Homo sapiens: one gene and its partners. The protein of the gene in region 7 purifies or fractionates together with the protein of the main gene of each other region. This does not show direct contact. Each region holds a gene or a part of one and is shown on either strand. Other genes may lie near its edges. The genes, in order: PFDN4, PFDN1, FAM167A, SYNGAP1, TM9SF4, PDCD5 and TRAF7.

Region 1 (4,022 bases), on a different chromosome or scaffold from region 7:
TTTCCTATACGCCATGCACTGTGACAAGAGAGCCACTATCCCACTTTCATGAATACAAATGGCAAGCATACATCCTGGTGGAGGAAGAGAGCAAAAAACAAGATGAACAAGATAATGTTCAATGGTGACAAACGTGATGATGAAAATAAAACAGCTTAGGAGTAGAAAGTTTTGGGGGCCTGGGGAGTGAAGGAGGCTTCTTTAGATAAAGGTCAAAGGTAGCCTCTCTGAGGAAAGGACATTTGTATATAGGATAATGAACAGAAATCAAAGTGCAGATCTCCTTATGGTCAAGAACTGGATCTTAGAAGGCAGAACTCTAGAGAGGAGAGGACTGAATCATCTCATCTAAACACTCTCCCCAGCAAAGTCATGACCAGTTGAGAGATACGATGTGTTACAAACGTAAAGTACTCCAGATTGTACGATTTGCTTTTAATTAAACTCAAAGGGCTATCTCTCTCTGTTTCACTCTCACTCACTGGCATACACATATGTTTTCTCCTAGTGAGGGCAAAGGGGAAAAGTGTACATGCAAGCTAATCTATCGGGAATTGTTCCTAACACTGGAAACATCTACAGGAGGACACTGCATCTATCATGTGACTCTTAAAGCCTCCAAAGTTAAAGAAGCTCCTTTATATTTTGGCCACCACCTACCCCTCTATAAGTTCTTTTCCCATCATGGCTCAAACTCTCTTCCCCTGATTATCTGCCATCGGGCCTTCCTTGTATTAAATGCACTCAGAGTCTCTGCAGATACTCCTCTCTAGAATGCTTCGCTCCCTATCCAACTCTCCCTTCCTTTCCTTACATAATCTCACAGATCTCAACTTAAATGGCACTTTCCCAGGAAAGTCTTCTCTGATCTCAAAACAGACCTCATTTTGGCCCTCATTTCATAAGCACTTTTCCTTCACAGTTCTCATCAGAGAAACTAGTTTTCTGTCTGACTATCTGAGTAATGCCTGCTCTGCCCTGGAACATACGTTCTTTGGGGCTATGAGATTAAGGGGAGAAGAGCTTTCTCACTGGTCACCACAGTTGTCTCCACTTAAAACTGAGACTACGCCATATTACGTGCCCCCGAAAATTTACTGAATCAATGAAAGGAAAAAAAAAGTTGGTAATTAGAAATTTTGCAATCAAAATCCAAGGTTCAAATCATTCTTCTGCCATTTCCTCTTCTACCATTTACTTCACCTCTCTGCACTTCAGTTTCCATACCTATAAAACGGAGTGAACCACAACTAGTATCTTCCAAGGAATTAAAGGCCATACCTAACACCAGAGGGCCCAATTTAACAAACTAGAGGTGAAGTGAATCTCACAAAGTTTCATACTTTTTTGAATCACCATGGCCCTAGACCCTACTCTGGGACACAGTAAGAATTTTTGGATGGCAGAATAGTAGGGTGAGCAACACATCCTGAGTTGGCTGGGGCTTTCCCATTTTTGGCAGTCCCTCAATTTCATATAAAAGGGGGCAATGGGTCACCCTACACCAGGCACAGATGGCATAGACTATGTGGTACTGGATAGGGGCAAAGCAAAGAAGTTCTAATGTGGTCTTAAAAGTGGAATGAACGCAAATCCCTCCAGCCAAGAGATTCTCATCAAAGACCCCCTATAGCAGTTTAAAACACAGACTCCGGAGTCAGAATGCCTGTGTTTAAATGCTAGCTTTGCCTCCGCGCCTGTTTTCTCATTGTTAAATAAGGATAAAAACAGTATCTCCCTCAAAGAACATAAAATAAACAATACACGCAAAACAACTTACAGCTGTACCTAGCACACTGTAAAGCTCCCCAAATTATCAGCCGTTATCTCCTTCCCCCTCTCCAATTTTCTTTTTCTTCTATCTGACTATCTTTACACATCTGGGAAGGCTCACGGGATTAAAAACCCCACATGGAAGTTTAGCCGGCTTAGTGGTTACACAGGCGTGCTTTGAGAAAAACAAAAACAAACCTGAGTTTGAACTCCAGCTCTGCTTCTTACTAGCTGAGTCACTTTAGGGCCTCTAACTGCTCTGTGTCTAAGTTTCTCTACCTGCAAAGTGGAGAGGAACCCATTGCACTTGCTGAGTTGCGGGGAGGATAACAGATAAACGGCCGGCTGCTGGGCCCGGCACATCTTCCATTCTCAATAAATACTGGTTTTAGCCTGAAGGACTCAGGGGCATCAAGCGTGGAAATGGGCAGCTCCAGGTTGGACACAGGGTCTCTGGGGCCTGCTAATCTGGGGATGCAGGAACCTGCTGTCCCCGTTATGAGCTGCGTAACCTCGGGCAGGTGACTCCCCATCTCTGGGCCTCAGTTTCCTCACCCGTAACCACGCTCCCAGCAGCAGCTACCCATAACCAGTGAGGCTAATGCGATCATGCCGGTGCAACGCCCGAGTCAAGGCCAACCACACTCAACGGGACCTTCGGCTTCCCACACCTCAGGGGCGAGGCCGGGGCTGCAGGTTCCTCAGACTCCCCGGGGGCACCCTCGGCATCGCGGGAGGCGGACCTGCGTCCTTCGAGGCTCCCGGCCCCAGCCCCGGCGCCCCGCCTCGGCTGGCCAGGTGCCTAGGAAAACGCTCAGGGCGCCAGGCGCGAGCAGGCCTTGCCGCGGGACCGCTCTCAGGGCCTCGGCCTCGGCCTCGGGTCCCACGCCGGGCTTCGGAGCTGCGCACCCCCAGCATCCCGCGCCCGGGCCCCAGCGGCCGAGATCCGGCGCCGCCCGAGCATCCAGAGCCCCGAGCTCCCCACTCACCGCCTTCTTCATGGTGGCCGCCATCTTGGGACTGGACTACCGCAGGCGGCGGGGAGGGCCGCAATGGCGCGCTTCGCCCCCGAGCGTTCTCTCGCTCCCGGTCGGCCTAGAACTCCCCGCAAAAATACAACACTGTCTCCACATTCCGTCCTCTTGGACTTTTGGCCAGTGAGTCCAAACGGCTGGGACGTAGGGAGGAAATGTGACCTGGAAGGACTTGGTACATGCCAATTAAAGGGACAGGCAACCCCCGTGGACCGACATAAACACGGGGGTGTGGCGAACGGCTCCGGCCGCGGGCAGCAGGGGGCGCGCCCAAGGCTCAGCGCGGCGGGGCCCAGCTGGGGCAGGATCAAAGGGCTCGGGGAATTTTTCTCCATCCGTCCCACAGACTTGCATTGAGAAAGCTAACCTACCTGTAAAACAGCTAGGAACGAATGGCCTTGGCAAATAGGGTGTGAGATTTATGTGCCATGATAATTCAGGTGGTGTAAAGGAGGTACTCCTATCTTTTAATGTAATTTTTTTTTAATTTAAATTCGGGGGGTATGTGTGCCGGTTTATTACATGGATATACTGCATGGTGCTAAGGTTTGGGTTTCTAATGATCCCGTTGCCCAAGTAGTGAACATAGTACCCCACAGGTAATTTTTCAACCCCTTTCCCCTGCCTCCTTCCCCGTTTTTGGAATCCGTAGCATTTATTGTTCCCACCTTTATGTCCACGAGTACCCAGTGTTTAGCTGTCACTCATAAGTGGGAACATGAGTGGTTGGTTTTCTGTTTCTGTGTTAATTCACTTAGGATAATGATGTCCAGCTGCATCCATGTTGCTGCAAAGGACATGATTTTGTTCTTTTTTATGGCTGCATAGTATTCCATGGTGTATATGGACCACATTTTCTTTATCCTATCCACCACTGATGGGCATCTGGGTTGATTCCATGCCTTTGCTGTTGTGACTAGGCAATCCTATTAATTAATTTACAGCAATATTACTGAACAATTACTGTATATTCTGACACTTGTGTCTCCCAATTAGTAATTTTTTTTTTTTTTTTTGCCTTAGGACCTCTTTATACTCCTGGAAATTACTGAGGACTCCAAAGAACTTTTGTTTATGTGGGTTATTTATCGATATTTGCTGTATTAGAAATTAAAGCAGAATTTTTAAAATGTATTTATTAATTCATTTAAAATAATATAAAACTCCATTCCATGGTAATAAAAATCACACTTTAAAAATAACTATATTTTCTAA
Region 2 (3,500 bases), on a different chromosome or scaffold from region 7:
TCAACTTTTTCCATTTTACATCAGGCACATTATTTACCACTGATGAGGGTGGAAATATGGAGAAGTTTTAAAAATTAACACTGAAACTGTTTTATGACTTTATGTTCACAATTCTTGCTTCAGGGAAAGGAAGAACAAACTTTTATAGCCCCAAGTAAGTGAACTGAAATATTTCCCCTCCACTGGAACCAAGGGAAGACCCCAGTTATGCAAATCTCTTTCAGGACTGTCTAAGGAAGCTAAAATATATTTCAATTTAATATTGCAATTAATTAAGCAAGATTTTTCTTCTCTTTGCACTAACAGAGTTCAGCAACAAAGAACTAAACATCATCTCTTAACAAAAAGTCAAACGAGAAAACACATCAAGGTAGCAACATGCAGTTTCCTCTGCCAACCCCACAAAAACATCATTGTGCCTAGGTGGGTTCTTATCAAGAGAGTCCGTTATTATAGATATAAGACAAGTAAAAACAGACCAAAAAGGGCAATTAGCTATGCCCCAACACCTGGAAGGAAACTGCCTTGTCCCCTCTTCTTCATAACTAAGCCTTACCACACATATTAATAAAATCTGAAGAACTTCTTTTACTCCACTAATTATTAAGCTTATATCCTAATGCGGCCAGCCCAGATAATTTTTTTTTTTGAGACGGAGTCTCGCTCTGTTGCCCAGGCTGGAGTGCAGTGGCATGATCTTGGCTCACTGCAAGCTCCACCTCCCGGGTTCATGCCATTCTCCTGCCTCAGCCTCCCGAGTAGCTGGGACTACAGGCGCCCACCACCACGCCTGGCTAATTTTTTCTATTTTTTAGTAGAGACAGGGTTTCACCATGTTAGCCAGGATGGTCTCGATTTCCTGACCTCGTGATCTGCCCGCCTCGGCCTCCCAAAGTGCTGGGATTACAGGCATGAGCCACCACGCCCAGCCCAGCCCAACTGATGATCTTAGTCTTCAGTAGTAACTTGATTCTTTGTAAAACCTTACTGTATATTTACAGGAAAGAGAGCCCACATTCATGCAAAACAAGGATTAATTCCAGGTCTTTTACTATAGAACCCTTCATGTCTAAAATATTCTTACTGGATCCAAGAGATGGGTGCTATTTCAGATAAGATTATGGTTTACAGAATATTTTTCTCAGAACTAACTCATATTTGTATTTGAAGAGAAGAGTTGTTTTGAACAGTACTAAGTCTCAGTAATGTTATGTAAAAACTATTCTAAAACAAGGTGCAAGAGTCACCAAATTATGTCATGACATGTGTGATTTTACTGAGAAAGTCTTTTAGCCATGGAAATAATTTTTTGAGTAAAATATACATTTTTAAGTAGCACTGATAGCTGGCCAATGAGTACTATTCTCAAATAAAAGGTCATCAGACATCATCTTTATTAGTGTCTGGGAAAATTTCAAAGCTAAGATTAGAGGTCAAGTCATTACTTATGTGGCCTTTAAAAATAAAGTATCTGAACAGATACTAAATCTCTTGAGCAGAAAATAAAATTACTAGAAAGCAAGAACACTCAACAACAAAAACACGTTTTTCCATGACCACATATCCTTTGAGGTAGCTATACTGGACTGTGCCAACTTCAAAGGCCAGAGAGATTCCACCGAAGCTGGCCAACTTACTACTACAAACCTAAGGACATCTCAGCCACGCAAGTTTTAACAAGGATGAATGTTGGGTAAATGCAAATGTCTACCTCAAAGAGTAGTTACACAGTAAAAATTCAAACACAAAAACTTATGGAAAGTTTGGTTTAGTCCTCAATTTAAAAAATGGCAAAGATATATTGTATGAAGACTGGAAAAGGCTCCAAGAAACATCTGATTTCTGAAAAAAAGTCTTTGGAAAACATCTTTCTTATTGTTTAAAAGGGCATTGGATTATCAGATACTATGTGAAGAGAAAGGATTTATCATGATAATATAAGTCTTATCATAAGCAAATATTATGTACACAGTTGCTCAATGTAGAGAATCTCATAGTCATTCTGCCTGATTGTTTATGGAAAGCCAAATAGTAAATAAAGAATTCTGGAGTTCAAAATGTACCAATAAGGAAAAATAAACCATGAAGAGGGAAAGTATTCTCTCATGACAAATAATATGCAGATAACATGCTTAAAATACTCAGGATTATATAACCTGAATTCGAGTTGATGCTTTGCAAAAGGCCTCTTCTTTGACCTGGAAATCAGTGCCACGTGCCTCTGCACTGTCCACTCTCAAGGACTTGTAACCTGCTATTTCACTTCCTCATTTATTTGTAATTATGCCATCTGAAAACATAATTCTGAGACTTTCGGTTTTGATTATTTGAGAAACATCAGACTCCGTTTTCTAAATCATCCTGCAGTTTGGTACAACTTCCACTTTCTTATAACTCAGTATGAATCAAAACCATTGTTCACCTGCCCAAAACACAATCCCAGATCACTTGCACTGCTGCATTTTGGACACAATTTCCAAAGTATGGTCACCTAGACATATGCTATTCAGAAACAACAAAATGCTTATGACGAGTTCACTTTGGGTGGGAAATTTTTAGAGGGTGTCTAAAAACGTATCCTATTAGCATTTAGGTTTCAGGGTATTCACAAATTAAGCAGCATAGAAAAGACATAAGAATGAGCCTATCTTCAGGAGAATGGCGTGAACCCGGGAGGTGGAGTTTGCAGTGAGCCGAGATCGCGCCACTGCACTCCAGCCTGGGCAACAGAGCGAGACTCCATCTCAAAAAAAAAAAAAAAAGAATGAGCCTATCTTGCTTCTTTGCCTAACTCCACTGGTGAGGAAAGTTACTGAATTTTTACGTCGTAATTTTTAGCGTGGAAGCAAGTAGAAATAAATTGAACTTCTTTTTTTAAAATTTTTTTAAATTGAATTTATTTCTTACTTTAATCACTTCCTTAGTAAGGAAGTGATTAAAACTTTATGGCACATCCACATTGTGGACTGCTCAGTGAGTTACAGACTTCTGTTATTGGCATAATGAAGAGTAGATACCCTGAACACTCCTGATTAGAAACAAAGGAAAAAAAAATTTTTTTTTAACATTTTGTTGAACTAACACAAAAGGAAGGATTCCACAAAGGTCCAAAGTGAAGTGAAACTGGGAATTCAGGAATGTAAGACAGCAGTAAATTGGCTTTCATCCTGAGAGTTTATGCTGAATCCTGGAGACCTTAAGTATCCACACTGGCACAGAAATAGGATACAAAACAGGAGATAAAACCAAGGGGGCAGCCAGGCATAATGGCATGCACCTGTAGTCCTAGCTACTCAGAAAGCTGAGGTGTGAGGATTGCTTAAATCCAAGAGTTCAAGTCCAGCCCAGGCAACATAGCAATGCCCCATGTCTAAAAAATAAATAAATTTTTTTAAAAAAGAATGACTAATTAAATAAAAAACCAAACCGAAATTTAAAAAAAAATATTTTTTTTATTGACATGTAAAGATGTCAATATAGTAAGTTAGTAAGTAAGTAAA
Region 3 (3,500 bases), on a different chromosome or scaffold from region 7:
GCGATGCTTGGGGATGGCAGAGAGATGGATGGATAATGAGTACAACTGCAAACAGCACTGTACACATGTGGTGAGCCAGGAGGCTGGGACGGAGGTTAGGCCAATGTTGCTGCTGACTCATAGACCCACAGAGAGCAGGGACTTCACAAAGCTGAATTAATGTGGTTAGTTGTGTTCACTGTGCAAAGTAAGGAAGCCAGTCAACACTGGACGATGTTTAGAAAACATCGCTGTCCCCCTCCACTTCTCATCTTGGGTCACCTCCTCATCCCATAATAAAGTTCTCTTAGGATAAACCGAGCAAAATAGCTCAGACATTTAACTTATCCCCAAACATGTGTCTTGATCTTAGTTTCCACCCAGAGAATGAAGAAAGCAAGCAAGCACTGGGTTACCCAAGCAACTAAATCACTCAGTTGCATCCAACTTAATTGGACTGACTACATTCAGCTAAATCTTTCCATTTTCGCTGAACCCAATGGTTTCGGTTACTGTAATGACTGATTTCCAAAAAGAAAGAAAAACCTAATTTGGCATTTTTTCAGAATATGGGATGGGCTTTCCTGCATGGGTTCAAGGATGTTTATGGCATGTTCTCTGTCGTGTGTGTGTGTGTGGGGGTGTGTGTGTGTGTGTGTGTGTGTGTGTGTGTAGGTCAGCCCGAGACCTCAAGGGCTTATCTGGAAAGAGGTTGGCAGGAAAGGAATGCGTCTTCAGGACTTGGCAGTGTTTGTGCAGAGCTCTGAGGAAGGACAGCAGTACATGGTCCTCAGGCCTGCAGACTTCATTGCACAGAGCATGGCAGACAGTAGATCTTGGCTGCGTTGTTCTGCCTACTTTGAAGGAGGCATAGAACTTCTGGCTCTTTGAAATTTTAAAAAAGAGACCAAGTTCTTTTCTGTCTACTAGAGATCATTCATTTGCATTGTCCTACTCTCAGCCCACAAAAGAAAAGCAACCTCTCCCCTATGTGGGTCACGATGTGTGGGTGGACACGGGCCCCACTGAGATTACACAGGAAGAAGTCACAGTAGACAGAGCAGCCAGATGCCGTGCGTAGACCATGGGACAGTGATTAGTGACACATGCCCTGTGGGGCCACTGTCAGTGCCTTGCTCCACCTTGACCCAAATGTTCTGAATTGCAATACTCTGGGAGATGTGGGTGGGGGCTGAGGTGGAGAGTAGAGGGGTTGGCAGTGTGCGGGTTTGGCAAAGCATCACGACCATCTTTGGGGTTCAAGTTCATTGACATGTGATCTACTAGGCATTATCAATAATGGTTTCACACATCAATATTCTATAGCCTAAACAGCTGTGCAACCTGAGGGAAGTCCTTCTCCTCCCCCAGGTTTCACTTTGCTCCTTTACTAATGAGAGGACTCGACTAGATGACACCAAAGGTCAGAAACACTCCTTATCTCAGGATTCTACGGGTCTGGCCGAGGGACCCCTGCCATGCCGTATGACCCCAGACTGACCTCCCTAACCTGCTGGGGTCTTAACTTGCTGATCCTCAAGCCTGTTGGGAGGGAGAAACTCTTAAAATCAAATCCTACGCACTGTAGTTGACCTACACAAGTGGCTTCCGCATTTGGACAAAAATCAGTTACTAACAAGTGAACAACACATCAGTAACAGTCTTATTAAAACTAGTTGTTTAGGTCAGGCACAAAATCTCAGAGGAGGCTCAGGATGGGCCTCTGGGCTCCCTAGATTGTCTTTCCAGAGAGGGCAGTAAGGTGACACCACCAGAATCCACCAGGAGGCCCCGGTCACGCCCCTGCAGGAGAATTCAGTTATGGAAAATGCTTTCAGGACCTGCCTGGTTCAGTCACCAGTGGTCTCCCAGGCTGTCACCCTGGGGTGTGGGTGGCAGTGAAGAGGCTCTTTGGAGATGCATGTGGCCAGGGGAGACAATGGGGACATCTGTGCTTGTTGCACCCAAGCTACGCTAGTGCCCCCATCACATGTCCCAGCACACGCCAGAATTTACAATTTACACAGCCTTATAGTGTCAGGCTCACCAGAGACACTGGCTGCCAGCCACTGGGGCTGCGTCCCCAAGTGCCCATTTGTCATGCCTTTCGATTTTCCCTTCCTAGTAGCTCCCTGTCAATGTTGCTGAGTCATGTACTTAGGGTGAATTTGAGACAATACTTAGAGGACAGCAACAGCACGTGAGACAGGCACATCTGACATGCCTAATTTCCCCCAAGGCCCTTGCGGGACAGCCTTCTGCAAAAATGACAGCTTTGTTGGGGGGCCTCCCTTTGGGAATCCCAGTTCATAGCACCAGTGATTCCAGGAAACAGGAACGTGACCGTGGAGGGATGGATTATGGTGGGAACCCAGGTCTCCTTTAACATCTTGGTTGGAGCGGCCCTTCTGCAGAGCTCTTTGGGTAGTAAGCAAGAGCCAGTCACAGAGACACTGGCATCCACACCCAGGGCCCCTGGGTGGGAGAGCACCACTGAATAGGTCCTGGGGCCCTTGAGTCGCCAGTCCCAGGGACCCCTGCCTCCGGGAGACCCACTGGAGTAACTTGGCCTCAGCTTCCTCTGACACCCCTCCAGCCCAAGCCCTCCGCTCCAGCCCCTCCGCCCAGTCTGAGGGCTCCTCAGCAGAGAGAGAACCTCCGAGAGTTGATGTTCATCTTGGTCACGCCAATAAGCTTGAGTGGTGTGGAGAGGCTGAAGGAGGAGGCAAGAGGGGAGTCACAGAAGAGGTCGGCCAGCTCATCCCGCTCCTCCAGCTCGTAGGTGGCATCGTTGAGCATCCTCCTGTGGAGGCGGCAGGTGTGTTCGATTTTCAGCTTGTTGATGTCGCCACGCAGGCGCATGAGCTGTCTGGCCAGTTGCTGGTCCTGCAGCCGCATCTCCGTCTGGAAGGGAGGGGGAGCAGGCAGGGTCAGCAGAGAGTGGCTCGAGTCCCTGACAGGCACAGACTGGTTAGCAGGGCCCTGACTAATGTCTTAGTTCATTAAGTGGTCCATCTAGAAATATTAGCACTTTCCCTGCTCAGGGAGGTGAAAAGACACAGAAAGCAAGGTGACAAATGAGGGTGCGGTCGCAAAACAATACTTTGTGCTAGGCTAGTTGCTGTATCTAAGTCCTTCTGAAAGACATGCATATTGGTCCTGGCTAGAAGATACTTCCAGTGCTTTCTCATTGTTTAGAGTTTCATTTAGATGGAGTAAGAGTATAAAGGAAAACATAGGGTAACAGCTATCAAATTCAGGAGGATGGTTGCCTCTAGGTGAGAAGGAGGGACTGTGATTGGGAAAGGTATATGGGGGCTTTGACTGTGATGGCCATGTTTTCTTTCTTACGCTGGGGAGTGTCATGTTGTTACATTACTCTTTAAACGTTTTAGAATGCCTGAAATATTTCTTAGTAAAGTTTCAAAACAGCCAAACAAAAATTGGTTCCTAGGTACTGGGTGTTTTATTATGAAACAGTTCTAAGGCCTTTGGGTCTATTAACATGCAACAGTTAACCG
Region 4 (3,500 bases), on a different chromosome or scaffold from region 7:
ATTTCATTAAATAGACACTGTCATTCCGTTTGTCACTTATTCACAGTGGCCATCTTCTCAAATATAACATTCCAAATTAGAGAGAGGTTTAACTGTACTGGGGGGAAAGGAAGGGGATTCAGGGAAGTGATATGGGAAGGGAAAAATCTTGTGGGAGGGCTGCCCCTCTCTCTCACAATTATGGCGGAAATGACTAGGAGCTTCTGCAGACACAGCATGCCCCAATCTCTGCATCCCTGGGAAGCAGAAACTGGCTTTATTCTTTTCCACTCCCATCTTCTTTTCAGTCCTTCTCCCTGGGCTCCCAATTAGAGGGTGAGGGGTACCAGACCAGCTCCTACCCCTGGTTCTACTCTCATCACCTCCTATAGCTCCTTGACCAACTCCTGGTTCCTGCCCTTAGCTCCGCCTTCTGTTCCTCTGCTGGGAGAAAAGAAAGCCATCTGAATTTCCCTACGCTTCTGGTTGGGAAATTCACTTCCTTCTCTCTTTGGCTGTTGTAATTATCTGGGGTTTGTACTGTACATGTCCGTGTGTGTGTGTGTGGGCTGGGGGCAACACTTGGCTTTTTAAAATTCAGGCTCAAAACTAATTTCTAATTAATGGCTGAGTTGCAGAGAGACCAATACCTACCACAAGTGGTTTAGAACAAATGTCCAAATTATTTCCTGGGCCACATGGCATTTAGGCTTGGTAATATAGCTATGTCTGACCTTAGGATACAAAACCTTCCAAGTAAAAGCTTCTATATAAGCTCTCCCTTCCATCCTAGGATCAAGGAGCTAACCTCTCAGATCACCCAAACCCCAGCCTTGGGTATGAGATACCCAGCAAAACTGCCTTCTTAGCTTGCTGGGTATCTCACACATTTTCTGCAAGTCAGTGAGAGGAAATCACTTATGGTAGGGTATCCTGAGTATGGCGGGAGAGCAGGGAAGGAACCCCCAGATTCCATTCCCTCTGTTTGTCTGCTGGTGACAGCACATAAGCATGCCCTGGACACCCCCATGGACCCAAATTTAGAAAGTGGATAAATTAGGGTGCCATTATTCATTTTACAAAAGAATTCACTGCAGGAGTCCTTTAAATGGCAAAGTCCCCTGGTGCCTTTTAGCATCTTTATAGATCACCAGCTACTTTGACAGAGAGGCTGGGCAGGCAGAGAATTAAAATTACAGTGTAAGGAGCCACTGCCCACTGCAGCTCAATCCCAAAGAAAATCGCATCTCAGAAATGATGGCTATAGCTGACAGGTTCTCATTTACTGGCTTTTTAGGTAGGGTGATGTGTCCGGCAAGGCCACTCGATGGCAGGAGAGGGGGAGTGAGTGGCATCAGCAACCTGGGGATGTGAGCTGTGAAGAGTACATTCTTTACCATGCTGTTCCTGGCACCTCTCCCTGGGAATCAACATGCCTACTGAGCCCACGATCTGATCTAGGAGGATGTCTCTCCCCATTTCTAAACTCCCAGGCCACATGATCAAGTCCATGTCCTAACATCTGCCTGAGGTTCCTTTCTTGCTCCTTCTTGTTCCATCCACCCTGCCTAATGTCAGGACATCTCAATAGCATTTTTTCCAGGGTATCTCAAGTCTCCCTGAGTTAACTACCCACTCCTAATTCCCACCCAATGGGGGCTAATATGAGCTTCAGATGCCTTCTGCCTCACAGATATAAGGAGGAGGAAGAGAGAGAATCAGGTGAGGAGTGGAAAGGAGGGTAGAGAACCAAGATTAGGGAAGGAAGAGGGAAACCCAACCTACCTGCTGCAGTCAGCACAGCCCCTATAGCCAAGATCCTCCAACCCATCATTGCCTCCACCCCATTAACAAACCCACCCCCAGCCCCTAAGGACGCTCTGGTGAAATGGGGGGTGACAGACATACACTGGAGAGGTAGAGGAAGAGGAGGGCTTAGAGTCAGGAGGAGGCTGGGAGGGGGTGGGTTTTGCAGGGAAGTGGGTGTGACCTGTGAATGTGCTGGGCCCATCTAGGGCCCAACTCTTGGTGTTGCTAAGGTATTGTTGGACAGTTCTGGGAAGCAGCAGCAAATGCTCTCTTTGGGTGGTGTCTTGGGAGATGGATCTGTGCAGGTGTCGGAGGGCTGGAGTCTGTGGAGGTTCTCTGGGTGTGGAGGGCAGCAGTGAGAGGGGAGAGGCTCCGGAGGTGTTGGAGGGAGTGGGCTTCACGACCAACCTGCAGTGGTCCGGAGTCACCTCCCCCTGTGTCCTCCGCCCGTGGCCAAAGCGGAACCAGGAGAATTACCTGATGAGGAGCTGCAGTGGGAGAGAGTGGGGTCATGGGGTCAGGAGCCTTGGTGGGGGGATGGCAGGCGGGGGGAGCCTAGCAGTCAGAGCAAAGAGGAGTATGGGTAGGAAAATGAGCAGAATTTTGGGAAAGCAAGGGGTAAGGGTGCAGAAGGGAGGTCCTAGAAGCTGGCTTGTGAGAAGAGAGGCTGGGCAGCAGGCAGCTGGGAAGGTCTGAGGGCCAGAGTGGGAGGGAGGCCAGAGGGAGGCTGGACTTAAATACTGAGGGCAAAGGGAGGTTACAGGATGGAAGGCCTTCAAGATCTGAAGAGTCAGGAAGAGGAAGCTATGCAGGAGCTGCCAAGGAGACAGGAAAATTAGGGAGCCAAGAGAACAGAGGTGATGGGTCCCCAAGTTTTCAGGGTACCGGCCAGGGCCTGGAGAAACTACAGATCATACTGCCCTGTGCTCTATTCCAGAAAACGGCAGCTTCTAGCCCTCTGGCCCAAGAGCGCAGAGGAAGCTGAACAACGTGGCTTGAATAGGAGTGAGCAAAGAAGGGGCAGGGGTTCTTGGAACTAGGTGGGGTCTAGGGGCAGAAAGACCAAGGTTCTGGTAGAGAAGGTCCTGAGATGCAGAGAGGAGTGGGAAGACTGGATGGGAAGGCACAGGAGTTGGGCTGACGCTGCCAGGAGTGACAAAGGCACAGACGATGGGATGAAGATGGGGTCACTAGGGGGCTGCCAGGAGCAGCCAGTGGACAAACAGCAGACTATGAGAGACAGATGGTGATGGGGCTAGGTGGCTGGTGTAGTGAGTGCACGAAAGACAGTGGGATGGATGGGGATGGGACACGGAGAAGATAAATGACATTGTAATTTCCACCTGAGCGTCGAGCAGCCTCTTCTTGGGTTCTGGCAGCGGCTCAGCCATGGCGGGGTGGTCCCGGCGCAGCTCCTCCTCCACCAGCATCAGCCTGAAGGGACGGGCTTCAGTGGGGTTAGTGGCGGGCACAGGCTCAGAGCCTGCCCATGGAACCCCATAGCTCTCTGGAAAAACCTCAGGCATCCTTATCCCTTAGAATCAGAGTCCCTCCATTGCCGTGATGCAAGACTCCCTGTTCCTCAGGATCATGCTCTCCACCTTCCTCCCAGGAACCCTTACACCTCCCTGCTAAGGCAGCTTTCTGTGCCTCAAAGACTTCTACCATCCAGACACCTCCAGGCCTCCATCGTCCCAATCAGGACAGCAGTG
Region 5 (3,022 bases), on a different chromosome or scaffold from region 7:
ATAACAGGACAGAGTGACGCCGGAGAGGAGCACAGTGGAAAAGGGGAAAGAGCCCTAAGGCTATCCTTTGAGCCCCTGGATCCAGCCAGACCTGAAGCAAAATAAACAAAATCCTTGATGACTTAAGAACCAATCAATTCATTTTTGGGCTAAAACCAGTTTGACCGATGTTTCTGTTGCTTACAATTGAAGAACTGGGTTTCATAGAGTGAGATGAGCTGACAGTAAAAGACTGAAGCTGGGAATCCAAAACCAGATCTTGCTGCTACCAAAACACACTTGATTGTCATTTCCTGCTTGTGGGATCAGAAGAGCAAATGACTGCAATTTAGTATGGAGGGGCTAGGCAATGGACTTGTACCAGGCAGGGAACAACAGTGGCTTGAGCCCTGAAGTGTGACACGAGAATGAGCTTCGGGGGAAACTGTGCAACTCAACCCACTCGGGGAAGGTGTCTCACCTCAGACCTCCAACCCCTGCATGAGATTCAAGACAAAACAGTAGGACAATGGTATATTTATTTACAATCCGACCAAAAAAAGGCATACAGGCATTTTTTTAATTAAAAATAATAATGATAATGATTTAAAAAGTCAGAAAAATTGATGATCTTTGAACCCTTTATGAGGTGTCCGTTTCCCATTCCCCCTAAAAAGAGAATCTCTTAGGGAAAAAAAAAAATCCAAGATTTGAATGAACAAAAGACTCCAATATCGCTCTCTACTGCTTGGGTTCCCTTTTCTCCAACTTGATGCTTGGTGGATGCCGCTTGGCGCTGCAGTCACTGTGAGGCAAGATTGAGAAATTCACTGGTTTGATGGGTGAGGCTGGTAGAGCCACTGGGAGAATGTGGGGCAGTGAGGGGAGGGACATCTTCCTAGCATCACCAGCATCCTGAGCTTTGTCTTGTGTTGGGAGTCCCACAAGGGCTGGTGCAAGGGTTAGCAGCTGCTACTTGAACCCTAATCCCTGGGTGGATGTGGTCTCTTGTAACTTAAGAGCAAATGTTTGTGATGACATGCACGGGTGGGCAGAGGTTGAAAAGAACAGGGGTCTACGGAGGAGCCAGGCCAGCCACGTGAGACCCTTCTTTCTAAGTTGGCTTCTTGTCCATTCCTGGGGATTGGGGAAAGAACGACAGAACTTACCTTCCATCTTCCTTCTCACAAGCAGTGTTTTGGGTGTCCCCAAAAGGAGGAGGCAAGAACTCAGGTGTGGGGTGGAGGGGATGGGGCTGGCTAAAGAAGTGAGTATGACCCCAGAGGCCAGAGAGGGCAGGGAGAGAATGCCTGGCCACTTACAGGAGGGGATCTGTAATCTCTGGGCCTCCCTGTTCTGCCTGAAGTTGGGCAGGGCCCACTGCTAGCACACCTTGGAGAGCGGTACCTCCTGAGGAAAGGGCTGGGGAGTGATCCTGAGGGGTAAGGACCCTAGCGGCCTTGGCCATCCCTTCCCAGACACAGACAAGTGGATGCTTGGCTTGGGAAATACTTGGCCCCAGGTCCAGGGTTTCTTGGCACAAAAACAGTTCACTGCAAGTCTCTTCTCTTCTTCCTTGTGGTCCAGCAAACTCCGGCTGCTCTGAACAGGGGCAATTCCTGCTGTCTGGGGAACCTGGCCCCCAGTACTTCCAGGGGATTTTCTTGTAGCAACTAAGACTTGGGTTTGCTCCTGGTGAAAAGATGACCCCGAGGCCTGGCTGGAAACCCTGCCTTGGGCAGCCCTGGAGGAGGCTGGGGAGAAGAGGGAAAGAGAGGTCTGGCAGAGGCTGGCTGGCACTGAGGGTGCTGTCCGAGCTGGAGCTGTGCTTTGTCGTGGCCTCAGTGGTGAGGATGGGCAGGGAGAGGCTCGGAAACCTCACTGAAGCTCTGGCGTGTCCTCTTCCAGTTAGTCATAGGGTGGCCAACAGCCCTGAGGAACTGAGGTGGAGACAGTGACCAAAACCCTTATCTCGGTGGATTTATCCATCCTGGATCCATTTGTTAAAACAAAGAAGGAAAAAAAAATCCAAACCAGAAATACACCTGAATAAACAGGTCAGAGAGTTCCTGTTGGAGGGAACTTTCTTAGCACTGAAGAAAAAGCAACCCACAAAAAAACTCATCCCCCACAGAACTGGAATAAGATGACGAAAAACGCAAGATTATCTACAGGCCCTCCCGCCCCCCACGCAGCCCCAGGATCCAGGAACACTGTGCCAGGAGTTACATTCCAAACGAGCAGGAGTTATTTTATTTTGCGTGCCTGCAGTCCCCCACGCAGGGTGGCTTCCTGTCCGAGGACGGAGCAAGCTTGGCCGTGGTCCACTCCAATCAGTCTATCTTCACAGCAGCATAGATCTTGCGAACAAACATGTAGGCTGCATAGAAGCCGATGGTACCCGTTAGCAGCCAGAAGGACAAGACCATGAGGGCCGTGTAGCCAAAGTAGAGGAGAGAGGGGATGAACTCCACGATGTCCAGCTGCGGCCACGAGCAGAAAGAAGACAGGGTGCATGCTTAGTGCCAGGCTGCATGGCGAACTGGGGCCCCACTCTCACTGATATCATGGGGAAACTGAGGCCTGGCCAGGGGAAGGGGCGTGCTCCAGTGGGTGGCAAGCGGCAGGCAGGGTTCATGGGCACAGCTCTGCTTCATCTGGACCAGGCCTGTGTATTGCCCTAATGCTCATAGCCTCAGGGGCCAGGCCCAGAATGCCACAAAAGGAATGGCCACAGCTGTGCCCTTCCTGGTCCCCCACAGACCCCAGATCAGTATGGCAACACTCCCGCATGGCTGGAGAAGCAGTCGGAGTGGGTGGGGGAGGGGAGGGGTGTCCAGGATGCCCAGCTTCAGGACCAGGAGCCCCATCAGCCCGCCTCAGCCTCCATTCATTCCTCTCTTCCCCAGAATGCTTGTCACTTTTGTTAGCATCTCACAGAGATTTTGATCTTGGAGCATTTTGGACTCCTTTTTAACTGGGGTAGAGTTTAGAGGCTGGGCAGAGATGCTGGGGATCTGTGTTATTTACAAAGGGAACTAAT
Region 6 (4,114 bases), on a different chromosome or scaffold from region 7:
CATGGTGGCGGGTGCCTGTAATCCCAGCTACTTGGGAGGCAGAGGCAGGAGAATCGCTTGAAGCTCAGAGGCAGAGGTTACGGTGAGCCAAGATTGTGCCACTGCACTCCAGCCTGGGTGATGGAGTGAGACTTCATCTCAACAACAATAAAAAAAGATGGGGTCTCACTCTGCTGTTCATGCTGGAGTACAGTGGTGCAATCACAGCTCACTGCAGCTATGATCAGCTCAAGCTCCTGTGCTCAAGTGATTCTTCCCCCTCGGCCTCCTGAGTAGCTGGGTCTACAGGCTTCAGTCACCACACCTGGCCTGCCACAAACTATTATATCACAGAACCCTAAGATGCCATCAATTCTAAGATACACCATAGTTTTACGTATCTCTAAAAATGAAAAACCCTAAAATGAGAGGTCTAATAGAGATCTCCATTCAAAACTGGGGTTTCTCGGGAGGCCAAGGTGGGAGGATCACTTGAAGCCAGGAGTTTGAGACCAGCCTGGGTGATATAGCGAGGCTATTAAAAAAAAAAAAAGTTTAAAAAAATTAGCCAGGCATGGTGGTGCACGCCTGTCATCTCAGCTCCTCAGGAGGCTGAGGTGGGAGGATCACTTGAGCCCAGCAGGAGTTTGAGGCTGCAGTGAGTTCTGATCCCACCACTGGGGTATCAAAGAGCAACATTCTCAGTACAAAGTAAAGAATAAATAAATATGCCATGCAGTAAGGGGCAGTACAAAAGCTTGCATGCACCTGGCCCTGACGTAAAGAAGAAAAAAGTTCAGTCTTACAGGGTTGCTGTCTGAATTCACACTACTAGGCAGGAGGCAGGGGAAAACCTCAAGCAGAGAATTTAACTTTCAATGGTCTCAGAAATGTACTCAAGTGATAGCAGAGTCAAAAGTAAATCCCCTCTGGAAGAATCTGGGGCAAGAGCAATCTGTTTTAAAAGGCATCCTGATTTCAGATATGTGACAATGAAAAGATGTACACGGCAGAAATCAATGAAATTTGCGTCGTTTTACTTCCTATCACTACTCCAGATACTTCTCACCGTCTGTCTTCTCCCGAACCCTCCCTTCCTATTTCTGTAGACCCAGCACAGTGCCTGACCCAGAGCAGGTGCTCTATAAATATTTGCTGGAGAGGAGGAGTAAGAAGGTGAGGAAGGGGAAATAGAGAATTGTCCAGTAGCTAAAGGTTTCAGTCTTGCAAGATGAAAACATTCTAGAGTGTGAACACTACTGAAGAGCACACTTAAAAATGGTTGTGATGGTGAAATTTTATTTAACCACAATTTTTAAAAAATGATAGCATGATAGGGTAATCACATACTCATTCAATAAACCTGCCACCGAATCAATTACCTGCATCTGTCTCAGGTGCTGTGCGCTGTGTTGGGATAAAACAATCAGAATAGCTTACCAGTTAACACTTATTGAGCACTTACTAAGTGAGGCACCGGACTCACGTCACCCCCACAGCCGAGGAAACTGCCACAGCTGCCTATTATCAGGCTCATTTTTAAGGTACTCACATTGTAGCAGAGAAACATCAACCAGTAATTGCAATACAAGGTCTGATGTGGAGCTGCACACGTGTTTATTTAACAATAATGAAGATACCCTGCGGATGATTTTGGCCAAATCACCATTCCAGCAAAACAAAAAAATCTGAGTCACACACCTGCTTAAAATAACTACAGCAAAAGAAATCCATTTGGTGAAACCACCCTTCAAAAAGTTCACGTTTCCAGCCCATACCTGTGCTTTGCTTCCTGTTGGGCCGCATCACCAGGATCCTGGAAAAAAAAAACTTAAATTTAATAGAGAAATTTCACGGGAGGCGGCGGGAAAAAGGAACGGTTCTGTTGTTTCCTATACATAACAGTCTCTTGCGGTGGTAGAAACAACTCCCCAAATAAGAAACTGGGCCTCACAGAAATCAATGAACTAGTTCCCACTTACAACGTTTTGATGAACGTCTAAAACCACAACCTCAGAAGGCTTTGGAATACAGAGCACCCTGGGGAGGGGAATCCCTGTATTACGAAACCGTGTTTCACATGTAGGAATAATTTCTGGAAAATAAAACGGGCCTCGGTATTAGGGACAACGATAACTCAAAGACTGCGCCCTCCGTCCCTAAGGTCCCGGTCCCTTATCAGAAACGCCTCTCCGGGCGTGTGATCCATCCAAGCTTCCCAGGCGGCCCCTCCCTGTCATCCCGGCGGGGCAAGCGTTCCTCCGACCCTGCCGCGCTCTCAGCACCGGGAACACAGCGGACCCTCAATACCTGTCGGCTAAACTTGGGTCATAACAACTGAACTCCGGAAAAACTGAATTCGGTCCGGCTGCTGGCTCCAAAAGCTGAGATTGTGCTTGGATCCAGGCCCGCCAGGACGAGCCCGCTCCAGGCTAGGGGACCCCACACCCCAACGCCAGGGCAGGTCCCGCACGTGGCGGCCCCCGCCGCCAGCCTCCTGGGCCCCTCGCGACGAGGAAAGCGACGAGGCCACCTCTGAGCCGGCCACGAGGCCGCCAGGGCAGCGCAGGGGACCGGGGCCCCGGGGAGGCGCCCAGAGCCTCCGCCCCGGAGGCGCGCCCTACACTCCGGGCGAGGGCGGCGCCCCGCGAGGGCCAAGCCTGGCGGGGGCTGATGCGCTCACCCCGTGTTTGGCCTGCAGCTCGGCCAGCCTCTGTCTCCTCAGCGCCTCAAGCTCCTCGTCCGCCATGGCTCGGCGTCAGCGCTGGAGCAGCCGCGGTCACTCTCGCAGCCCCTCGGCGCGAGCGCGGCCTTGACCACTGCGCAGGCGCTCGCGGGGCCCAGGCGCCACCAATCCAGCCCGGAGCCACGCCCCGCGCCGCTGCCAGGGCGCCGGCAGAGGCCCGATTCCCCGATTTCAGGCGGTCGAGCTTGGGCGCACGGAGGGGCGGGGCCTGGGGCGGGGCCTCCGGGATCCACCTCCCACCCGTGATCGGCGCCTCTGCGTGCAGGGACTTGGGCTGCGCTGGGGCGGGGCTGCGCTTTGGAAAGGTTAAAACCTGAAAGTGTGGCATCAACAAGTATAATAATTATGGGTGCAATGTGCTGGTGACCTAGAGGGTTAGGCGTATATTATCTCTATTTATAGATGAGGAACCAGGGGCGCAGGAAGGCTGAGTGGGGTGATGGAAATGTCCTAAAGCTGGATCGTGGCGGTGGCTGCCCGGCTCCTCGGTGCACACAGAGGCCGGCCGGTGGCTCGCCGCCTGTGGTCCCGACGCTTCGGGAGGCGGTAGGGTCATTTGAGGTCAGGAGTTAGAGACCAGCCTGGGCAATATGGCAAGAGCCTATCTCTACTAAAATTTTAAAAAACTAGTTGGGCGCGGTGATGTGCACCTGTAGTCCCAGCTACTCAGGAGGCTGTGTCAGGAGGATCGCTGGAGCCCGGAAGTTCGAGGCTGCAGTGAGCCTTGATCTCGCCACTGCACTCCAGCCTGGGAGACACAGCCAGACCCTGTCTCTAAAAAAAAAAAAAAAAAAAAAAAAAGTGCACATCTGCCTCCTCGCCATCTGCCTCCTCCACGCACAAAAGGGCTTTTCCTGGGAGGATACTGCAGTGGGCAGCTGTGGCTGGTGTAAACTCTTTGGTGGAACAAATCCCTTCTGCCTTTGACTTGGGGGAATTGGGGGCAGAGAGGATATTCAGCTACCTAAACGTGTGACTCATACAGATTCTGTTTGTTTGTCTGTGTGTGTGTTATTTTATTTTTTACATTAAAAAAATACAGATGGGGTCTCGCTATGTTGCCTAGGCTGGCCTCTATCTCCTGAGCTCAAGCAATCCTTTTGCCTCAGCCTCCCAAACTGCTAACATTACAGGCATGAGCCACCACACCTGGCCTGTGTGTTTTAATTGTGGCAAAATATACACAATACAAAATTTACCATTTTCACCATTTTTAGGTGTACTTTTCAGTGGTATGAAATGCATTATCGTGCAGTTGTCACTCAATCTCAGCTCACTGCAACCTCCACCTCCCGGGTTCAAGCGATTCTCCTGCATCAGTCTCCCAAGTAGCTGGGACCACAGGCGTGCACCACTGTGCCCGGCTAATTTTGTATTTTTTAGTAGAGA
Region 7 (4,272 bases):
CGCCCTCATGCCAGCGTGCCACCGCACTGCCACCTCCTTTCCCACACCGTCCCACGGCCCTCAGTCCTGGCCCTCTGCGTCGCTGCCCCCTACTTCCCACCTGGGTGCTTCTGGGGTTGGGTCACCTCCACCCCGAGTTTCCAGGCAGCCGGCTTCCTCCAGCCGGGTGAGGGTGTCCGGGTCTACACGTGACCAGCCCCAGCCTCCAGTGCCCGCTTTCCCCTTTCACCTGCCCCACCTGGCTGCACCCTCCTCCTCCAGGGAGCAAGGCTGGGGACAGCAGCGGATCTGTCAAAGACTAAGGGGTTGGTGGGTCCCTCTCCACAGGTTCCCCCCGCATGATCCACACAGAGGGCCTGGTGAAGTCCTCGGTGCCCACCCACTGAGAAGGCCGGACTGAGACACACGCAGCCAACAGCTCTCGGCCCTCCCCACATGCCCTCCCTGACCCCGCAGGGTGTCCATCCAGGAGATGCTGTGACACCGTGGTCAAGGCCACAGGCACTGGGCTCAGACAGAGCTGGGTTCAAAGTCCACTTCTACCACTTCACAGCTGTGTACCTGCCCTCCTGGCCTCGGGCTTCTCGAAAAACGGAATAGAGCCAGAACCCTGTCTGGAAGGAGCCGAGAGAAGATGGATCCGTCAAGAGTGAAGGCACCCCAGACAGCAGCTCCTCTGCTGAGTGGACCATGGAGGCTGAGGAAGGCGGAGAGGCCGGCCCAGGGACACAGCCAGCAGGCTGTGCCGCTGTGACCAGAGTCACATTCCTTCTGCTTCGTCCACGGCTGCCACACATCCAGGAGCCCCGGCAGCGCCTGAGCCAGTCCCATGCCAAGCCGGGGAGTGGCTGCATCCCAGAGCCAGGCTGCCCAGGCCTCCTGGCCAGGAGGCTCTTCAACTGCATCTTCCTCCTTTCCCCAAACTGCTCATTCCTTGTCCAACCAGCTGGCCGAGAGTCACACCAACCACGGGGTGCCAGGCCCCATGCGGGAGGGTGGGGATGTGTGACGGCTGAACACGAATCTGACCCGGGAGGAGCTAGGAGCCTTGTGGGGGACACAGGCAGACAGAGGGGCAGGAGCCCCACCAATCGCCACTCAATCTGCCAAAGGCACTTTTCGGTGGGTGCCAAAGACCCTGAACTTTTCCATTCACTTCCAGAAATATCGTAACACTTGGCCCCAGTGGGCCACGGTGGAAGTCACTTCACCAGAGACCCTCAGGTTGGGGCGTCAGGTTGGGGTGCTGACTCCCAGCCCCTCCCCTCCTTAGGCCAGGCTGCCCATACCACTGCTCCCCCTCAGGACACGGGGCCCGAGGCTTCCACAGAGAACTATGAATGCCCAGAACAGTGAAGTCAGGATATTCGCAACAGAGAGGCACAGGGAAGGGGTCTAGGAAGGGAGAGGCCCAAAGAGAAGGAATGAGGAAGAGGGAGGCTCCTCACTTGGCGAGGGCTAGGGGGCCTGTGTGTGCCCAGGAAGGGGTCTGAGGGGTAGTGAGAAAGGTGGGCAGACAGGCTGGGCGGCATGAAATTCCTGAGCAAGCCAGCAGCCCCTCACCCCCAAGAGCAGGGTGGGCTCCAGCAGGCCCCTGCCCCTGGACTCCAGACTCAACCCCAGCTGACCACTCTGGCCTGGCTCAAGACAACCGTATCTTGACAGCAGGACCCCAGTGGGGACTAGGAGACGATGGCCTAGCCTCCCTCTCTCCTGCTTCCCCAGTGAACTCTGAAGTCTGTGGTCCACACACAGTTAGAAAGCTCTTTACTGGACCTAGATCGGACCGCCTCTCCAGCGCTTCCTCAACCCCAAGTCATTTGCCAGCATAATAACCCCCCCGCCCCACCCCACCATGCACCCTGTGAGCCTGGTCCGGCCTCATCGACTTCACCTCTCCACTTGCCAGTGCTTGCTGGGGTGCGTCAGGCCCCTTCTCACCCCAGGCCTATGTACATCTGGCTCTTTCTACTTGGAATGCTCCTCCTGCATGTCCTGGGACTGGCTGCTTCTCCAACAGGCCTTTGGCTAACGGTAGCGCCGCCCCTACCCCCGGCCAGTACTCACTTTTTCAGCACCCTCTTTCTTTCTTTCACAGCACATACCGCTGCTCCCCATGATTTTAACTACCTATTGTCAATCCCACCACCCTGTCTGTCTAGATGGGGGATGGGGGGAGTTGTTCCGCAGGAGGCATTTGCCAATGCATGGAGACATTTGTTATCGCAATTGAGGAAGGGGTGGTGTTTACTGGTATCTAGCGGCCAGGAGCCAGGCAAGCTGTTCCACATCCTACAATGTACAGGGCAGCTCCTCGCAGCAAAAAGCGACCCGGGCCGCGTGGTCGATGGTGCGGAGGTTGGGGAACCCTGCAGCAGACGCCGAGCACAGGAGAACTGGGACCGTGTTCTCCGCGGTCTCCCGGCGCCCAGAACAGTGCCTGGCACCCGGGAGTCTCGGGGAATGCAGGAAGAAGGAATGAGTAAAGAACTGCGCGAGAACAGGACGGAGCGAGGGACGGACTACTGACTGGCGGACGGACAGCGACGCGGACCCCGACCCTGACCCCGACCCCGACCGTCTCAGCCCCGCCCCCCCCTCCCCGCCCCGGCCCGACCCCTCGCCTCGCCTCGCCTCGCCTCGATCTCCACGCGCCCGATCCCGCCCCACCGCGCGGTCCCGAGGCGCGAGCCCCGGGTCGGGCGCGCCGCGGGGACACTCACCCGCCCGCGGCCGCCCGGGAGCGGCAGCGCCGCCAGCCCGCTTCATGATGCCCCCTCGGCCGCCGGCCGGGAAAGGGACTAGACGCGCGAGCCGGAAGCGCCAGGCCGCTGCGCCCGCCGGGACGTGTAGTTCCCCGCCTCTCCGGGCCCGGACGGCTGCCTCACGCGCCGCACTTCCGAAACTACGACTTCCGGCGGCCTCGTCGTCGCGGGGCGGGAATGGCAGCTTCAGAATCACTCTATGTTGCAGATCGAAGTCTGATTGGCTTTGTTCATCCGTCACTCACCGTTAGGCTTCACGGACTCTGCATAAGGGAGGAGCTTCGGGTCTGGGTCTGAGAGACCGTCTCCAAAAGAAATGCCACGGTACGATTGGTGGAAACAACGCGGCAGGGAGCGGAGCGTACCAGCGGCGGGGGAAGGCGGGCACTTCCGCCAGGATAGCCCAATGACAGAGGTGGGACAGTTTCTATAAAAGCTTGAGCCTCGCCCGCCCCTGTCTTTTCGGGGTCGAGTCCGAGGGGGAAGAGGTTTGTTAATACGTTCGCCATGTGCTACGATCTTGGGACGAACTGAGCCACGAGCGTGGCTTTGAGGGCCGTCCGAACGCTGCAGGCCGGCCAGGTCCCTGGGCGTCCAGGCCTGGCCTACGCACCACTTTGTCCCTTAGCGTTTAAAGGTTTCTTCCCGAATCTCAGGCCCTCAGCTACCTGCAGGTAAGACTGGGCCGGGCTTGGGTTCCCTTATTCTCCCAGTCTGTGATGAATTGCTTTGACTTCTGACACCTCGTATGAAAACTGCACGTGCAGTCTGATTATTTAGCAAGACTGAGGCTTGAGGGTGCGCACTCCTGACGGGGAGCTGAGAGTGGAAACAGGTGTTGCCCGAAACGAAGGAGTGGGGACTTAATGTCTGTATTTTGGCGCTGACTTTCAGGTTTCGTCGCGAGCCGGCTGCAAGTTTTGAACCTAAGTAAACCTCAATCCGGAGGGCCTAGCGGTAAGGTGGGCGCTGTGTCTATTGAAGTGCTTAGCAATAAAGAAAGGTAGTGAGTTGATTCGGTTTTCTCTCAAGTGTCTTTATTTTCCTATTCTGGCACCCCAGAGGTCTGGCTGATCCACAGGCAATCTTGGAAAAGGGTACAGACATGAAAACGGAAGCTCGTTACCAGTGACTTTTCATCTCTTGGGATTGCCTTCTCCATTTCTGCCCGTGATTTTTTTTTTTTTTTTTTGAGACGGAGTTTTGCTCGTTTCCCAGGCGGGAGTGCGATGGCACAACCTCCACCTCAAGCGATTTTCCTGCCTGAGCCTCCCAAATGGCTGGAATTACAGGCGCCCACCACCACGCCCGGCTAATTTTGTATTTTTAGTAGAGACGGGGTTTCTCCGTGTTAGGCTGGTCTCAAACTCCTGACCTCAGGTGATCTGCCCACCTCAGCCTCCCAAAGTGCTGGGATCACAGGTGTGAGCCACCACGCCCAGTCAAATACTGTTTTTCATGCCTTTTGCCCCAGGGTGAGTCCAAAAAGGCTTTTGAGATTTGTGGA

The links.
Region 1: the proteins of TRAF7 (region 7) and PFDN4 purify together in Homo sapiens (affinity purification with mass spectrometry; 3 studies listed by BioGRID and IntAct, with this or other methods). This does not show direct contact.
Region 2: the proteins of TRAF7 (region 7) and PFDN1 purify together in Homo sapiens (affinity purification with mass spectrometry; 2 studies listed by BioGRID and IntAct, with this or other methods). This does not show direct contact.
Region 3: the proteins of TRAF7 (region 7) and FAM167A purify together in Homo sapiens (co-immunoprecipitation; one large-scale study listed by IntAct). This does not show direct contact.
Region 4: the proteins of TRAF7 (region 7) and SYNGAP1 purify together in Homo sapiens (co-immunoprecipitation; one large-scale study listed by IntAct). This does not show direct contact.
Region 5: the proteins of TRAF7 (region 7) and TM9SF4 purify together in Homo sapiens (affinity purification with mass spectrometry, with the first as the bait; one large-scale study listed by BioGRID). This does not show direct contact.
Region 6: the proteins of TRAF7 (region 7) and PDCD5 purify together in Homo sapiens (affinity purification with mass spectrometry, with the first as the bait; one large-scale study listed by BioGRID). This does not show direct contact.

The regions. Positions count from the first base shown.
Region 1 is NC_000020.11:54,206,865-54,210,886, reverse strand, and holds the start of PFDN4 (prefoldin subunit 4), read right to left. Parts: upstream 2,801-4,022; 5' UTR 2,787-2,800; coding exon 2,763-2,786; coding exon of another isoform or gene 2,517-2,762; intron 2,486-2,516; exon of another isoform or gene 2,137-2,485; coding exon of another isoform or gene 1,972-2,136; intron 1-1,971. UniProt on the Homo sapiens protein: Binds specifically to cytosolic chaperonin (c-CPN) and transfers target proteins to it. Binds to nascent polypeptide chain and promotes folding in an environment in which there are many competing pathways for nonnative proteins.
Region 2 is NC_000005.10:140,282,602-140,286,101, forward strand, and holds part of PFDN1 (prefoldin subunit 1), read right to left. Parts: intron 1-3,500. UniProt on the Homo sapiens protein: Binds specifically to cytosolic chaperonin (c-CPN) and transfers target proteins to it. Binds to nascent polypeptide chain and promotes folding in an environment in which there are many competing pathways for nonnative proteins.
Region 3 is NC_000008.11:11,421,754-11,425,253, forward strand, and holds part of FAM167A (protein FAM167A), read right to left. Parts: intron 2,884-3,500; coding exon 2,620-2,883; 3' UTR 1-2,619.
Region 4 is NC_000006.12:33,447,565-33,451,064, reverse strand, and holds part of SYNGAP1 (ras/Rap GTPase-activating protein SynGAP), read right to left. Parts: intron 3,236-3,500; coding exon of another isoform or gene 3,223-3,235; coding exon 3,132-3,222; coding exon of another isoform or gene 3,129-3,131; intron 2,277-3,128; coding exon of another isoform or gene 2,262-2,276; exon of another isoform or gene 1-2,261. UniProt on the Homo sapiens protein: Major constituent of the PSD essential for postsynaptic signaling. Inhibitory regulator of the Ras-cAMP pathway.
Region 5 is NC_000020.11:32,164,735-32,167,756, reverse strand, and holds the end of TM9SF4 (transmembrane 9 superfamily member 4 isoform 1 precursor), read right to left. Parts: intron 2,463-3,022; coding exon 2,313-2,462; 3' UTR 501-2,312; downstream 1-500. UniProt on the Homo sapiens protein: Associates with proteins harboring glycine-rich transmembrane domains and ensures their efficient localization to the cell surface.
Region 6 is NC_000019.10:32,579,876-32,583,989, reverse strand, and holds the start of PDCD5 (programmed cell death protein 5), read right to left. Parts: upstream 2,801-4,114; 5' UTR 2,729-2,800; coding exon 2,663-2,728; intron 1,796-2,662; coding exon 1,758-1,795; intron 1-1,757. UniProt on the Homo sapiens protein: May function in the process of apoptosis.
Region 7 is NC_000016.10:2,154,310-2,158,581, reverse strand, and holds the start of TRAF7 (E3 ubiquitin-protein ligase TRAF7), read right to left. Parts: upstream 2,801-4,272; 5' UTR 2,724-2,800; intron 1-2,723. UniProt on the Homo sapiens protein: E3 ubiquitin and SUMO-protein ligase that plays a role in different biological processes such as innate immunity, inflammation or apoptosis. Potentiates MAP3K3-mediated activation of JUN/AP1 and DDIT3 transcriptional regulators.